Linked DNA regions of Homo sapiens: region 1 is linked to region 2. A link means that fine-mapping ties the variant in region 2 to the expression of a gene that starts in the linked region. Tissue or cell type: whole blood. Region 2 holds a variant in brackets; the other region holds the start of a gene. All regions are shown on one strand. Distances are between the middles of the regions.

The links. PIP is the estimated chance that this variant, and not a neighbour inherited with it, causes the effect.
Region 1: SOCS7 starts here. The variant in region 2 is fine-mapped to the expression of SOCS7 in whole blood (TOPMed, PIP above 0.99).

The regions. Positions count from the first base shown.
Region 1 is chr17:38,347,861-38,356,038 of GRCh38, forward strand. It overlaps SOCS7 (suppressor of cytokine signaling 7), which reads left to right and starts at 3,984. Exons shown (of 10, transcript NM_014598.4): 1 at 3,984-5,172. The coding sequence starts at 4,193. It overlaps LOC124903991 (a long non-coding RNA gene), which reads right to left and starts at 3,136. Exons shown (of 2, transcript XR_007065738.1): 1 at 3,058-3,136; 2 at 2,599-2,865.
Region 2 is chr17:38,396,529-38,404,706 of GRCh38, forward strand. It overlaps SOCS7 (suppressor of cytokine signaling 7), which reads left to right. Exons shown (of 10, transcript NM_014598.4): 10 at 2,985-8,178. Among named protein-coding and RNA genes, the nearest start is that of ARHGAP23, 28 kb to the right of the region's middle. The variant T/C (reference allele first, on the strand shown) is at 4,279.

The DNA of each region.
Region 1 (8,178 bases), 49 kb before region 2:
TATATATATATATATATTTTTTTTTTGGCGGTGGGAATAGAGATGGGGTTTTGCCTTACTGCCCTGGCTGGTCTCAAACTCCTGGGCTCAAGTGATCCGCCCACTTCAACCTCCCAAAGTGTTGTGATTATAGGCGTGAGCCACTGTGCCCACCTTATTTTCTGTTTTACTTTTTTGAGACAGGGTCTCTCACTCTGTCACCCAGGCAGGGGTGCAGTGGCATGAACACAGCTCACTCCACTTCTGACCCCTGGGCTCAAGTGATTCTCCTGCCTCAGCCTCCTGAGTAGCTGGGATTACAGGTGCACGCCACCACGCCCAACTATTTTTTTTTTATTTTTTGTAGAGACGAGGTCTCACGACATCCTCACAACATTGGGTCTCTTTGTTGCCCAACCTGGTCACAAACTCCCAGGCTAAAGTGATCCGCCTACCTTGGCCTCCCAAAGTGCTGGGATTATAGGCTTGAGCCACCACGCTCGGCTGAGGACCACTTTTATAGTGCTCAGTGAAAGAGGTATATTTAAACATAAAATCAGCTCAATAAACATAAATTTGGCAGGGCGCAGTGGCTCACACCTGTAATCCCAACACTTTGGGAAGCTGAGGCAGGTGGATCAATTGAGGTCAGGAGTTTGAGACCAGCCTGGCCAACATGGCGGAACCCTGTCTCTACTAAAAACAAAAAAATTAGCTGGGCCTGGTGGCATGCGCCGGTAATCTCAGCTACTCAGGAGGCTGAGGCAGGAGAATTGCTTGAACGCAGGAGGCAGAGGTTGCAGTGAGCCGAGATCATACCTATGCACTCCAGCCTGGGAAACAAGAATGAAACTCTGAGGCCGGGCGCCGTGGCTCACGCCTGTAATCCCAGCACTTCGGGAGGCTGAGGCAGGCAGATCAATGAGGTTGGGAGATCGAGATGAGCCTGACCAACATGGAGAAACTCTGTCTCTACTAAAAATACAAAATTAGCTAGGCGTGGTGGCGCATGCCTGTAATCCCAGCTACTTGGGAGGCTGAGGCAGGAGAATCGCTTGAACCTGGCAGGCAGAGGTTGCAGTGAGCCAAGATAGCGCCATTGCACTCCAGCCTGGGCAACAAGAGCAAAATTCCGTCTAAAAAAACAAAACAAAACAAACAAACAAAAACACAAAAGAATGAAATGCTGTCTCAAAACAAACAAACAACCCCCAACACAAATTCAAGTCCTACAAATGCAAAGATACACCCTCTTTGCTTGGAATTTAACTTTCAATGTTTTTTCCAGGATCTGGGCTACGGAAATGGACAATTATGGAAATGGGAAAAGTCTACCCCATGGCTTGCCCTGCCTTAGAAAGAGCTCGCGTGTGTTCCTCTGTACCTCTGTGCACTCCGTGCAAGTAGAGATACTCCAGATAACCCACACAGTCCTCTTCTCCCACGGCCAGGAAAGCAGCTGGACAGCAGAGGGCGATGAAGAGCCAGGGACCTTGCCTGTAATCAGCTTGTAATGGGCTCTGAGGCCAGAGAGTTTCTCAGAGAGAAAGCTGGGGATCTTGGGTAGTCTTCTTAGGCCTCAGGTGTTGTGTGATTCTATAGCAATTTCTCTTCTTTTATTCATTTATCTATATAGAGACACGGTCTTGCTCTGTCACCCAGGCTAGAGTGCAGTGGTGTGATCACAGCTCACTGCAGTCTCCACCTCCTGGGCTCAAGCAATCCTCCTGCCTCAGCCTCCTGAGTAGCTGAGACCACATCTGGGCACACCACCATGCCTGGCTAATTTTAACATTTGTTGTAGAGCCAGAGTGTTGCTATGTTGCCCTGGCTGGCCTTAAACTCCTGGCCTCAAGTGATCCAAGACCTGCCTTGGCCTCCCCAAGCGCTGGAATTACAGACGTGGGTAAACATGCCCCTCTCAATCGCTCTTCTTTTCTTCAGAAACCTGAGTGACACCTGAGAGGCAGCCAGGGGAAGAGAATGAACTATCTGGAGTCAGAGCTGGTTTTGATTTTCACTGCATCCTTTTGAATTGAGTGACTTTAGCTAAATAACTCACTGAGGTTTACTTTGTCTCTTTATGTGTGAGGAAAGATAATTAATTCTGTTGTGCAGAATTTGTCTCAGGAGACTCTTACAGGGCTTAAGGTTGAACAACAATTCCAGGCACTGTCCTTGGCACTGGAGAGTCCCCAAGGGGCAAAAAGCAAACATGGCTTCTGCCCTCATAGAATTTACAGTTTTGTAGGGAGGACAGCTTTTAATCAACTGACCCCACAGACAGATTGCAAATTACACCTGCGCAAGTAAGTGCAACAAAGGAATGATCTCAGAGCCTGGGGAGGAGGAAGGGCCCAGGCAGGGAGATTTCCCTAAGGTAGTGAGGAGTGAGTTCAATCTGAAGGATGAGTAGGAGTTTACTAAGCAAAAAGAGAAAAGTCTTGCAAGAAAAGGGAATAGCTTTTCTTGCCCACATGTATGGGAGCCTGCCGCAAGGTTGATGGGAATGCAGGGAACAGAGAACAAGGTGGAGCTTAGCAGGGGATGTGGCTAGAGAGGCAGGGGTTAGATCACACAGGGGTCAGATCACAAGATCACACATTAGCCTAAGAACAATGGGAAGCCATGAACAATTTTAATCACAGGCTATGAACACATTTCCATTCTGAAAAGGTCCCTCTGGTTGCAGGACTCAACCCTCCACCCTCTTCCCCTCAATGCACCCTCAGGTATTAGAAGTCACTGAGTTCTGCAGCTGATCCTTCCTCCTTTTCCCTTGCATCTCTCAATATCTCCCACTGGGACTATTTCAATGGGCTCCCTGCCTCCAGTCTCACCTCCTCCACACAAAAAGCTTGATCTTATTTGATCCTCACAACATGCCTGCAAGCAAGCAAAATTGCAATCCTTATCCCTGTGTAAAGATAAGAAGGCCGGGCGTGGGCGCGGTGGCTCACGCCTGTAATCCCAGCATTTTGGGAGGCCAAGGCGGGTGGATCACCTGAGGTCAGGAGTTCAAAACTGGCCTGGCCAACATGGTGAAACCCTGTCTCTACTAAGAATACAAAAAATTACCTGGAGCGAGGCAGGAGAATTGCTTGAACCCGGGAGGCAGAGGTTGCAGTGAGCCAAGATAGCGCCATTGCACTCCAGCCTGGGCAATAGAGAAAGATTCCATCTCAACAACAGCAAAAACTTAATGTGTTGTCTGTAGCCGTTACATTATGAATAGCACAAAAATTGAGTAAATATTCTTCCAGTATTTGAAACCGTTTTCTGACTCAGCAAAGAAGTTGCTCCCATCATTGACAATCCAATTAAGTTTTGTCTTTTTCAGTTTTATCAACCAACATTCACCTTTACAATTACACTCCTAGGTCAACTGCAATCACAGTTTGGCTACCCATATAAGAGTTTGGCAAAAATCAATGAAAGCATTCTGTGAGAAAGAGTTATATGGAATTTGCCAATTTACTATTAATTGTAAATTGTGAACTACACATCCTTTATGTCAGTAAAACTTAACGACAAATTTTTGTACCTATATATGTGCATACATTCCCGTTCTCCCCCCAGAGAGCTGGTTGTTACACATTTATCAGTACAGCACTGGGTCTAGAACACGATTCATGTACTGATTCCACAAACATTCACTGGGTGCCAGGCGGACGGAGATACAGATTAATGATGAAATGACTCAGCCAAGGTCACACATCGCAAGCGGCGTAGATGGCAGAACCATATGTGCTCCCAAGGCCAGCGGCGCGCTCCCAGGACCAGACCATGGTTTCCAAGGCCTCTCCACTCTACCGAATGGGATGGCCTGGGCCTGGGCGCCCAGGAAGTGAAAAGCAAGGACCGGGAAAAGAGACCAACGCCAGCCAACAGACAGCTCACCGCCAATAGGGGCCGGGGGCGCGCGCGGCGTCACTCGCCGTGGAGGCCAGCGCGAGCACGCCCTGGGGAAAGTGGCGTGGCTAAGCCCTTCCGGAAGTGACGTCGGCTTGGGGGCGGTGCTCGGCGGTGGCGGAGCGCGGCCTGGGCTCGCGCTGGGCTCCGCGCGCCCCCCGCCCCCCTCTATGAGGCAGAGGCCGCGGCGGCCGTTAGCGCTGTCGCTCCGGGGGCCGCGGCGGGCGGGGCTCCGGCGGGGCCCGGCCTAGTCCCCACCCCAGCCCGGCTCCCAGCCGCCCGCCCTCCCTCCCTCTCCCCGATGCAGGAGGCCGAGCTCCGGGATGGCGAGGCGGCGGCGGCGGCCGCTTCGTACCGCGTCCTGAGCCGCCTCCTTGGCTATGGAGAGGCGGCCCCCGAGCCAGGCCCTCCGCCACCGCCCCCGGGCCATGGCCCCCCGCCGCCACCCTTCCTCGCGCGGCCCGGCCCGCGGGGCTCCCGGCCGCCGCAGCTGATGGTGTTCCGCAACGTGGGTCGGCCGCCGGAGGAGGAGGACGTGGAGGCGGCCCCGGAGCCGGGACCCTCGGAACTGCTGTGTCCCCGGCACCGCTGTGCCCTGGACCCCAAGGCCCTGCCGCCGGGCTTGGCGCTCGAGCGGACCTGGGGCCCGGCGGCTGGACTAGAGGCGCAGTTGGCGGCTCTGGGGCTCGGGCAGCCGGCGGGGCCGGGGGTCAAGACAGTCGGTGGGGGTTGCTGCCCGTGTCCGTGTCCTCCTCAGCCGCCCCCTCCGCAGCCCCAGCCGCCTGCTGCCGCCCCGCAGGCCGGGGAGGACCCCACGGAAACGAGCGACGCGCTGCTGGTCCTGGAGGGCTTGGAATCGGAGGCCGAGAGCCTGGAGACTAACAGCTGCTCGGAAGAGGAGCTCAGCAGCCCGGGTCGCGGAGGAGGAGGGGGCGGCCGGCTTCTGCTGCAGCCCCCAGGCCCTGAATTACCTCCGGTGCCCTTCCCGCTGCAGGACTTGGTCCCTCTGGGGCGCCTGAGTAGAGGGGAGCAGCAGCAGCAGCAGCAGCAGCAACCTCCCCCGCCCCCGCCTCCTCCCGGGCCCCTCCGGCCACTCGCGGGTCCTTCTCGGAAGGGCTCCTTCAAAATCCGCCTCAGTCGCCTCTTTCGCACCAAGAGCTGCAACGGTGGCTCCGGCGGTGGGGATGGGACCGGCAAGAGGCCTTCTGGAGAGCTGGCTGCTTCAGCTGCGAGCCTGACAGACATGGGAGGCTCTGCGGGCCGGGAGCTGGACGCGGGGAGGTGAGACCGGCCGGGGGCTGGCCGACAAACTTCCTTTTCTTGTTTGGTTTCCCTTTTTATCTATTGCTATCGCGATCCTGACAGTTCTTAAGATAGGGTCTTCAGGAGGAGGCAGAGACTTGGGACCAAAGGTGGTAACATCTCGCATAAGGTCAGCGCTAATTGTGGAAACAGCTTTCACTCTTAAAGAGTGCACACTCCGTGACACTTCTCAGCTGGTTTGCATCTGTCTTGTTGGAAGATGGTTTCAGACCATCCTCCCATCCCCATCCTGGCATGGCTTTTTAAGTTTTTCCAAGGCGGCTGTGTGCCATTGTCCCTGGAAGGGAGATTGCTGGAAGTGTTTGGCCTTTGGGGCAAAAAGCTGGTGTTGCACCTTGACCGCCTTGCTTATTCTGTGTACCAGCACCGCACCTCCCTTCACACTCATGCATGCAAATGACAGGAGAATCTTCAAATGCAATTGTAGGCCAGCAATCAATTGGACACCTCTATTCAAAGTTTTACTGTTTTCCTGGTTGTTCCCTTAGATGAACTTGGCATATCAAACTTGGGTGCTGACCACTGTCTCTGAGAATAGAAAATAGCAGACCGGGCACAGTGGCTCACACCTGTAATCCCAGCACTTTGGGAGGCCGAGGAGGGCGGATCACCTGAGCTCAGGAGTTTGAGACCAGCCTGGGCAACATGCGAAACCCCATCTCTACAAAACAAACAAACAAAAAATTAGCCCCCATCTCTACGAAAAAAATACAAAAAATTAGGCGGGAGTGGTCCCAGCTACTCGGGAGGCTGAGGCAGGAGGATCACTTGAGCCCAGGAGGCGGAGGTTGCAGTGAATAGTGATCGTGCCACTGCACTCCAGCTTGCGTGACAGAGTGAGAGCCTGTCTCGAGAAAATAGCTTTGCGCTCTCTCAAAGCCTTTTGAGAATTCTAAGTACCAGTAAGATATAGACAAGGTAGAGACAGGTACATGAGTTCTAGGCCGATTGATGAAAATTCCAAACATAGACGTTGAGTTTTTTTCCTGCATTTCTGAGGGGTGGACTGATCTTCGGCATCCAGTGTTACATCTGTAGCGTTGGTTTACAAAGCTGTCAACTTTGGTGTCAGTGAAATTAGTTACCTTGTAGTAACTGCCATTGTGGTTTGTACTTCTTTGGGTTCTCAGAAAGATTGGAATGGGTTTTGTTGTGGTTTACGTGATGGATTCTTGAGACATACTGGCAGCCATAAACCAAAGCTAAAGAACAGGTATAAATTGATAACCTTACTGTGAACTAAGATCACTTGGGGAGCTTTTTGAAAAGCCTAAGAGTTTGAACTTTTTAAAAGCTCCCCAGTTGATCCTGAACTGGGAACCACTCATCCATAGACTTCTGTTTTCAAGGGAACTTGGGTACTCCAACAAGAAAATGTTGGGTGGATTTGGCTTTCTTGCCCTTTCTGAACAGCTGTGCCATGGGCTTATCTTGGGGATGAGGCCAAATCCAAACTTTCTAAAGAAATCAGTGTGTTGTCCCTTTAGGTAGGCCAGTGTTTCTGCTTTGCCTCCCAGTGAATTCATGCTGGGAGTTCAGATCTTGAAAAGTGGGTGGCTGCTGAAACAGCTTTTTTTGTGGTAGGCTCTGTATTCGATGCTCCACTTACCAGCACAGATGAAATTTTCATCAGATGCAGGGGAGGGCGGGATTAAAGCTATGGGTAATGACATAGGATAGATTGCTAATTTTCTTGTGGTTTGTCTTGCCTTTGTTCCATATTGACCAGGAGTTCGTCTGAGATTCCAGAGACGCCAAATACGAGGTGTGGCGTGAAATTAGCTGCTACGTCTAATAGATTAGGAAGAGGAAAAGGCATATGACATTATACGGTTTTTTGCCTTTGGAAGCAGAATTTAATGGTCATTGGCTGCTCTGTCACCAACCCTCACACTAAGCACAATACAGATTTCTGCTGCAGAGCAAATTGGGCTGTAGCTTTGCAAAGAAGCTTAGTTCAGGGCACTGGAGAATTACATTTTTTGGTCCAAGGGCTTTTTTTGATGAATTGGAGAAGAGCTAGTTATTTGTGTATAAACGTTTGGTTGACTGCTGTTTGGAGGCAGCATGCTGTATAGAGAATGTGAAAGTCTAGATTCCGTGTAAACTCCAACATCAGCTAGGAGATGACCAAATTTGTCACCTTCATGCTTCCCTTTTTCCCCCATCTGTAAAATGGGTGAGCGTTGACTGTCTTGTTCCTGTCCTTATAAGAGTAGATTGTTGAGAAGAGAAATCTAGATGGAATATTTTGTGCTTTTTAGAAGATAAGTAATAGGACTGAGCTGGTAAATTTTTTAATGCTTAGGATTTGGTGCTGCTTGTGAGCTTTTCGACAGCTTACTATGTGCCAGTCTTGCTGGCAGCCTCGCAGCTGTGAGAAACTTGGTGAGTCTGGCCAGGGTAGTTGTGATTTCTGTGGATCTGCACCTCCTAAGTCCGCAATAGTGGGAGGATGAGTTTGGATTTTTAGCTTGTTCTCTTGTTTTGATTGGTAGGACCTGGAAATGGTGAGAAATTTCAGTCTTTTGCCAAAGGGTATATGCCTTTGTCCTCATTGTTGATTGGAGTTAATTATGGGCTTCTATAGTCTTTGCTGTATAATTTGGGGCTTTTGCAGTAACCTCTGGGCATAATTCCCTTTGCTATTCCCAACATCTGCCTTCCTACAATCATTTTAGAAGGTTTAACAATTCCCACATTTTAGCACTAAGCAAAACTTCCTTTTAGTTGCTTTTGAGTCTGGTAAGTGGACCTACCTGGATATATTGTCTTCAGTGTGGTATGAGTTAGCTTAGAGAAGTCTTTTTGTTTTGTTTTTTGTTTTGAGGTGGAGTCTTGCTCTGTCGCCCAGGCTGGAGTGCAGTGGTGCGATCTTGGCTTACTGCAACCTCTGCTTCCCGGGTTCAAGCGATTCTTCTGCTTCAGCCTCCCCAGTAGCTGGGATTACAGGGGCCCACCACC
Region 2 (8,178 bases):
TCTATTTAGCGTTCCATTTGGGCCATTACAAAGTAAATTGTTGAAACTAAGGAATTCATTTATCTACGAGGCTCTTCTCCCATCATTACACAGTTCTACCCATTTATTTTCCCATAAAACATCTTGCAATACTGGTTTGTGCAGATGAATTCCAATTAGTCTTTTAAATTGCACTAAAGTGAACATTGTGGGGCCAAGTTCCTGAGTAGGGAACACAATTGCCAGGGAGCCATGACTTTGGTGGTGGTGGTGACAAGCAAGATTGACTGCCAGTGTGCAGTGACTGCTTTCTTCTGGTGTGGATCCTGGAGTAGATGTACAGTCTCATCATGTCTTCAATTATATGCAAATTGTATGCCTTTGGAAATGACTAAATATCTAATGTCTTGTGTCTAGGTGGATTTCTCTGCATGATGGCTTTGCAGTTGAGATTAGGGTGAGAGGTAGAGCACTAGGGAGGTCCACCTACCTGACTACCCTTGAAGAGTAATTAGGCCATTCAGTTAGAGGACCACGTCTGTGGGTGCAGTGCTGTAGAAGAACCCATATAAACAGGGAGCATGTTCAGAGAAAGGCCTTGTGGCATTGGAGAGCTCAAACTTCATCATATGGGAATAAATGGCCTAGAAAGAAATGTGATTAACCCAGAGCACGGAGGTTTTAGGGAGGGATAGCTGAAAGATGCATTTGATGGGTTTTCCTAAGGAAGAGAGTGATTAACCTCCTCTCTGTGGTTCCAGTGGGGAGCAAGTTCAGCATTACGCTTATTCTTTGCCACAGGCAACAATCCTGATGTCACAGCAAAAAGAGATCCTGAGAGTTCAGTTCAAACCTTTGCCAGTGCATGACTGCTCCCAACACTCAAGACAAGTGGCTCCCTGCCGGCCTGTTCCTGATCATGCCACACCTTTCCCAGTTGAGGCAGGGCCTTTATACCTCTAGGTCCCCTTGCCCAGAATGCTCTGCCCCAAGGCCCTCCCATGTCACAGCAAAAAGAGACATGGATAAGGACCAAAATGAATGTAAGTTACAAGGAACTAGATTTCAGTCCAACTTTACAAGAACCTTTTTAACAGAGAGGTCCAAAACTGGGATGGTTTTCCTCAAGAGCTTCCATTCAGCAGATAGCTGTATATTTGTGTTTATTTGGCACCCAGTATGAATTGAGAATAGAGTGCTGAGCAAAGCAAAGGCCCTGTTTTCACTCAGCTTCCCTTCTCCTAAGGAAAGACAGGCAGCAAACATGAACATAAATGAATGGGCTAATTTCAGGTGACTGTACAGTGTTGTGAGGAAAGTAAAACTGGGTAAAGTTTAGTGATTAGTGGTGGGATACTCCTCAAGTTTAGATGGTCAGGGAGAGACTTGTGAGGAGGTGCCATTTCAGCCGATACCCAAATATCAAGGAGCCAGCCATGGGAGTGCCTTGGAGCAGAGCATTCTGGGCAAGGGGACCTAGAGGTATAAAGGCCCTGCCTCAGCTGGGAAGGACGTGGCATGATCAGGAACAGGCCAGTGGGTAGCCATTTGTCTTGAGTGTTGGGGGCAGTCATATATTGGCGAAGGTTTGAACTGAACTCCCAGGATCCCTTTTTGCTGTGACATCAGTATTGATGCCTGTGACAAAGAGTAAGCGTAATGCTGAACTTGCTCCTGGTGTAGACCCTAGGAGCCCTGGAAAGGGAGGAAGTAACACTTCCCAAGGGAAAGGTCTTTTTTTTTTTTTTTTTTGAGATGGAGTTTCGCTCTTGTTGCCCGGGCTGGAGTGCAATGGCGTGATCTTGGCTCACTGCAACCTCCATCTCCCGGGTTCAAGCAATTCTCCCACCTCAGCCTCCCAGTGGGAGGCTGGGATTACAGGTGTGCACCACCACGCCTGGCTAATTTTGTATTTTTAGTAGACTGGGTTTCACCACGTTTGTCAGTTGGGTCTCAAACTCCTGACCTCACTCAAGTGATCCACCCACCTTGGCCTCCCAAAGTTCTGGGATTACAGGCATGAGCCACTGTGCCCCATTGGGAAAGGTCTTTAGGGTATGAAATTTGGCCTTTATGACTTCTTGTTGTTCAGGCTGATTTTAATTTGGGAGTTCTGAATGGCCTGCTTGGTCTATGTGTGCTGTTACCTGGGGAATTTCATGCCAGGGGGTTTGGAGTCAGACTATAGAGTAATGGCTAGAACAGTGCCTGTCTCAAGTCGGAAGGTGGAAGCAACAGTGGCCTTTGTGTTTCTGTGTCAACCCTGTCCAGTTGACAGAAGCTGCAGAAATACAGAGCTCTCTGGCCAGGTGTGATGGTTCACGTCTGTAATCCCAGCAGTTTGGGAGGCCAAGGCGGGCTCATCACGAGGTCAGGAGTTTGAGACCAGCCTGGCCAACATGGTGAAACCCTGTCTCTACTAAAAATACAAAATTAGCCAGGCATGGTGGCGCATGCCTGTAATCCCAGCTACTTGGGAGGCTGAGACAGGAGAATCTTGAACCCAGGAAGTGGAGATTGCAGTGAGCCAAGATCATGCCTTTGCACTCCAGCCTGGGTGACAGAGCGAGACTCCGTCTCAAAAAAAAAAAAAAAAAAGAAAGAAAGAAATATAGAGCTCTTTCTTGCCAGGTTCAAAAGGGGTTACTCCAGGGGCTTACTTCCCTTTTCAGTCCCTAGAGCAATTGAGCCTCAGGGAAAAAATGGGTAGGAAATGAAGGGGTAAGGGAAAGGGAAAGAGAGAATTTATGCAATGTGGTAGGATGTATTTATTAGTTATTTCAGGACCTTGTTTTGTCATCCAAGTCATAGGCTGCTCAGGTCCCCCTGACAAAGGCCACTGCTGCATCCCTAGTCACATGTGGCCCTCATGGAAGCGTTCAGCTCTCCAGGCTCCGTTCTCCTTTTGAGGTGTGCTGCTCCACCTCCAGTGGCTGGCTGTTATTTCACTCCATTTTGGTTCTATTCTGTTGAACTGTTTTAATTTTTTTTCCTTTTCTACCTAGGCATTTGGTTGCCAAGCTCCAGCTTTGAAGAACCAAATTAAGCTACCATGAAAAGAAGAGGAAAAGTGAGGGAACAGGAAGGTTGGGATTCTCTGTGCAGAGACTTTGGTTCCCCACGCAGCCCTGGGGCTTGGAAGAAGCACATGACCGTACTCTGCGTGGGGCTCCACCTCACACCCACCCCTGGGCATCTTAGGACTGGAGGGGCTCCTTGGAAAACTGGAAGAAGTCTCAACACTGTTTCTTTTTCAGAAGTTTTGTTTTTGATATTTATATTACTTGGTATGGAAAACTCACCTTGAAGGCAGTTGGGGTTTGTGCCCGTTGGATTGAAAGTGGTGCGAAGGGTGAGCAGGTCCAAAGAAGGGGTGGGAGGAGGGAACAGGGGACGGCCATTCAGCTGGTGCCAAAGGCAGAGTTAGAGTCTGTGCTGTGGGCCTGGAAGATGGGAGGAGGGGCTTGAGGTTTGCAAAGGACTGGGAGTTCCTGAGGAAGGGGGAATCTGCCTCTTGTTGCCATGGGCAGCTGTTGTAGGAGCAGGAGAGAAAGGAGGGTGGGTGGTCTCGAAAAGAATATTGGGCAAAACCTAGCCAATTGGCCTTAGCTGGGAGAAGTAGTGACTCCTGCATCCTTTTTTAAGGTTTAGGAACCTGAGTTCAGAAACACCTCTCATGGAAGCTGTACTAGTTGTGATTTACTTAATTCCTTAAGTTCCATGACCTGAAGTTAACCCCGTTCTTCCTCTGCTCTCAACCCATTGCCCCTTGAGATAACTGTACATGTCACTCTGATCATGGTAACAGCATCCCTATTGCTTCTGCCAGCTGTCATGGCAATCGTGTTTCCCATCACCTGGGCGGTTCAGAGCCAGTCATGGGCTGCTGAATTTAATGGAGCATGTTTCCAGGTTCTTCATGGCAAACTGTACTCATGACTTAGGAGTGAGTGTTACTTCCATGTGCCTGTCAGCTTGTGAGGGGGAATGTGGAGGAAGGTGAGAAATACAGCTCCCACAGTTGTGCTCTTCCTAGAGGAAGCTCTCAGAACGCAGCCCTCACGGGATTTCCTTAGGTCAGAGGAGAGCATCGCATCTCACGTTTTTAGGTTTATCACTGCCATCCCACTTCTGGGATGGGAGGTAGCAAGGGCTTCTGTATTTTCTTGTGTTCATTCTAGCAACCCAGACATTTCCGGATCAGATCCTGCTGGTCTCCACTCACTGGAAAGTCTGCCAGATGCCGATTTGAGAGCTGCCTGTCCCTGCTTTCAGGAGGAGCGGGGAGAAAAACTCCAA[T/C]GGTCTTTAATGGTTTCTGCAGCTGGCCATGGCCAATTCATATGACATTGTGAGTTTGCTTTCTTATAGAGCTGCTCTGGGGAGAGGTTTGCTATTGAGATGTAACAGTGGAGCTGTTGGGTCTTCATGACTCCTTTGCGTGTGTTCCATGGGACTCTCTTTCTGGGTTCCCCATGCTTATAGTTGCCTCGTGTCACAAGACAGATACTAATGTCAGGTTTGTGGCTTCCTGATGGTTTGGGTGGGGCCCCAGTGTCCTGGTAATTTATAGGACTGCCTCATCTGGGAGCATTGCCTTCTTCCTTAGTCCCACGTGGAGTGACCAGTCTTCCTCCTTGTAGCTGAACAGGGAGGAAACTTGCACCATTACCTGACTGTGGAAGGGTGGCCCACAAGATGAGCTGTGCACCATAAACACAGCCCACCTCTGATTTGTCATGTGGTACCTCTTCTTTCCTTGGCTTCCATGGTAGTATTATCAACTAAGCAAGATTGTGATCCCAGAAATTGGCTTAGCATGTGAGTGTTGCCTCGTGAGAGTACAAGTAATATAACTCGCCATCTTGCAGGAAGTGCCACCCCAATATAGAGCCTGAAGTTGGAATCTGTTGAGATCCTTGGGTGGCTGATATACAGCCTGGGATCTTTCTTTTTTTTGTTCCTTTTCAACCACCCATAATTTTAATATTATTTTTTAGTGTGTGTGTGCCTGGCTTTGCGCTAGATATTGTAGAAAACAAAAAAGGTAAAAGACGTAATATGTGGCCTAAGGGAGCTTTTAGGTGACTGCTGCACATCAAGCAGAAAATCAAGGACTATCTAAAGACGTTTATAGTAGATAAGATCAGGGTAGACCAGATGGTCTGGGAAAGTTCTGTGCCTCTGAGGCTTTGGGTTGTAGTCAATGGCAGGACAGACAGTGAGATGAAAAACACATGAGCAAAAGCAAGGAAGCAGAAATCTGCATGGCATGTACTGAACAGTGCACAGCCCTGTTAGAGCAACATGGTTAAAGAATCCTTTCCAGTGCGGTTTTCTAGATGGAAGCTTCCCAGCCACCAGGCAGACCTGAGTGCCAAGGGGTTATGATGGTGAGGTGGAGCCCAAAGCCCAAAGGAGTCAGCAAGGCTCCTGCCCATTGCCAGGGCCTCACTATGGTCAGCTCAGGCCATGTGAGGGAGGCAGAGCCTCTGCACCCCCTGTGTTACTGGGGTTTCTTCTGGAGAACTCATACATTCAGGTACAAAACAAACCAACTGAGGAGGTGTGACCCAACCTCACCACCCACCTTTCTCCTCCTGGGGAGTGTCGTGTTGAACTGTGTCTGTGTCAGTGCACTGGTCCCAGCCCTGGCCGCAGCCTAGTCCTTTCTCTGTGGAGTGGGCTGCAAAACAGCAGCGCAAGAGGAGACAGTCTTCGTCAGGTGTGGGTGTTTGGTGCCTGCATGGGTGGCCTTGCACAGAGCAGTTAGGGGAAGATGAGGGGGAGGCATGGGGCTGGGCCAGCTCTCTGGGATACAGCCTGGTCAGAGAGTAAATGGAGCAGAGGAGCAGGTGTGGCAGCACCTGCCCTTCACCTCCCTGACCAGGCCCGTCCCTCCTTCGCCAGTGCTGTGCAGAGCTCATTTAAATGTATTCCTTTCTAGGTCTGGGCGCGGTGGCTCACGCCTGTAATCCCAGCACTTTGGGAGGCTGAGGTGGGTGGATCATGAGGTCGGGAGTTCAAGACCAGCTTGGCCAAACAGTGAAACCCTATCTCTACTAAAATACAAAAATTAGCTGGGCATGGTGGCATGCGCCTGTAGTCCCAGCTACTTGGGAGGCTGAGACAGGAGAATTGCTTGAACCCAGGAGGCGGAGGTTGCACTGAGCCGAGATTGCGCCACTGCCCTCTAGCCTAGACGACAGAGTGAGACTCCATCTCAAAAAAAATAAATAATTTCTTTCTGGTTGTATTTTCAAGTCACAAATTGGAAAAGGCTTACATCTAGGGACCCACTGTTGATTCCTAAGTTGTGGGTGGGTGATATCAGTGGCCTCAGTGCCTGCATAACCCTCACCTGTTTATGACTGATCTACTGTAACCTTCCTCAGGTTGAGAGTGAGCTGCTGTGAGCCAGTGACAACTACTGCTACAACTTGCTGTTACTTGAAATTCGTGTGCTATGTTGGTAGCACAGGAGTAGGCGGGCGGGGGTTTTGGTGTGGGCACTAGGTAAGTGGGTGGCAACCGGCTCTTTGGGACCATTGGTGCTGACCTTTGCCTGGTCACCTGCCTGTGCCTAGGCCAAGTGAATGTTACATCTTGGAACCTGAGCCATGGAGGTGGCGCCACCTCCCTGAGGAGAAAGGTGTGGCCAAAGGAAACTCCTGCATGGCTCCTGCTCCTTCCCCTTCCCTACATTTCACTTGGGCTAATGATGTAAGCCCCCCTTGAGGTTGGGGATGGTGTGGAGATAGCTGCAGACACCCCTGTAACAGACATCCAGGAAGAATTAGGGAGTGGGGGTAATTATAGTTCCTAGGTCTAGGGGTGAGAGGTGGGAGTAGAACCAGAAGTGCCCTGGAATCCAGCCGTGTCAGCCCTCACCCCAGGGCCCCCAGGAAAGCATGGCCTGCTTGAAGCCCTCTGCTCCCTGCAGAAACTGGGGCGAGGAGGAGCTTTTTCCTTCAGTTAGATCTTTCCCTTCCCTGCTGCCTCGCTCCCTTAGCTTTGGAGCCCTAAAGTTAGTGGACAAGACACTGGGATAAAGCTCTATGGCTGCTGGAAGGAGGTCTGAGTCTGTGTGTGTGCATATGCATGCATGTGTGTGTGTGTGTGTGTCCTCATTTGCAGAAGTCTTGCTACCAGTTAGGGTGTTAAGAGCATCTCCACTGGGCGGAGACCTGGCATTTGTTTTCCACTGTTAAGAGAATGACACACCCCCTGTCATGTAAGGGAGGAGCTATTGAGTTAGACATTTTCCCTATGGGAATCCTCGGTTTGGTTTGTGGGAAAGGAGGGAATGGATAAGTGATTTTTATCTCTAATCGTCAACACAGCTGTTCTTCCACTGAATTTGTGCTATTGCATACATGTAGCCATCTTTCTTTTCACTGCAGCAGTGTTTATCAGTAGTTCAAAATGATTTATTTGCTCCTGGGGAGTAAAACCTTTTTTATTAAAAAAAGAAAAAGAAAAAAAAAAGAAAGAAAAGTGTGCCCCCCTCCTATGCTGCGATAGCTATAAAATGATTGGGTCACAAAGGTCAAGTCTGCACGTCCCTGTGGTAGACCCTGCTTTCACATTGGAGCCTTCACACTCAGCACAAAATGATTGGAGGCCTTGATAAAATGGAGAGCAAAGTCTTGGGAGCAGTGAAATGGGGGTTGGATCATAGAGACAGGCGCTGGGGACTCGGGTACTGCAGTTAGGAAAGTAGCGTTATGAGTTGTACTGAAAATGTTGATTCTCTAATCTGCCAGAAAAGGACCTGTCTTTTCATGCAGATTTCATATTGTCTTTGTCCTTTTCATTGCTTCTTGACCTTCCTGGCAGGTGTCGCTCAGTTTCTTCCTGTTTCCCTTCCTGTCCTCTCCACACCTGCTATCCCGTCCCACTCCCATCTACCTCCCGGGAAGCCAGCCCTGCATGCTGAGTTTGTGACCTGCTTCATTCCCATTTCATTTCTAGAGGGTTTAGAGGTGACCTGGAACCGTTCCCTTTCCCTCTCCTACCCCCTCCTCTGCAACACCAAGAGGCCTGGAGGGGCAGACAGAAAGCAGCCAGCCACGGCGGGAAGACATGCATGTTTGGTTGCAGCTGGACTGCGATCGTAGTTCCTCCTGGAGATAGAGTGTGAGGAACTTAGGACACTCTTCCTCAGACTCTGGGATCATCACATACCACACTGCCCCGCTC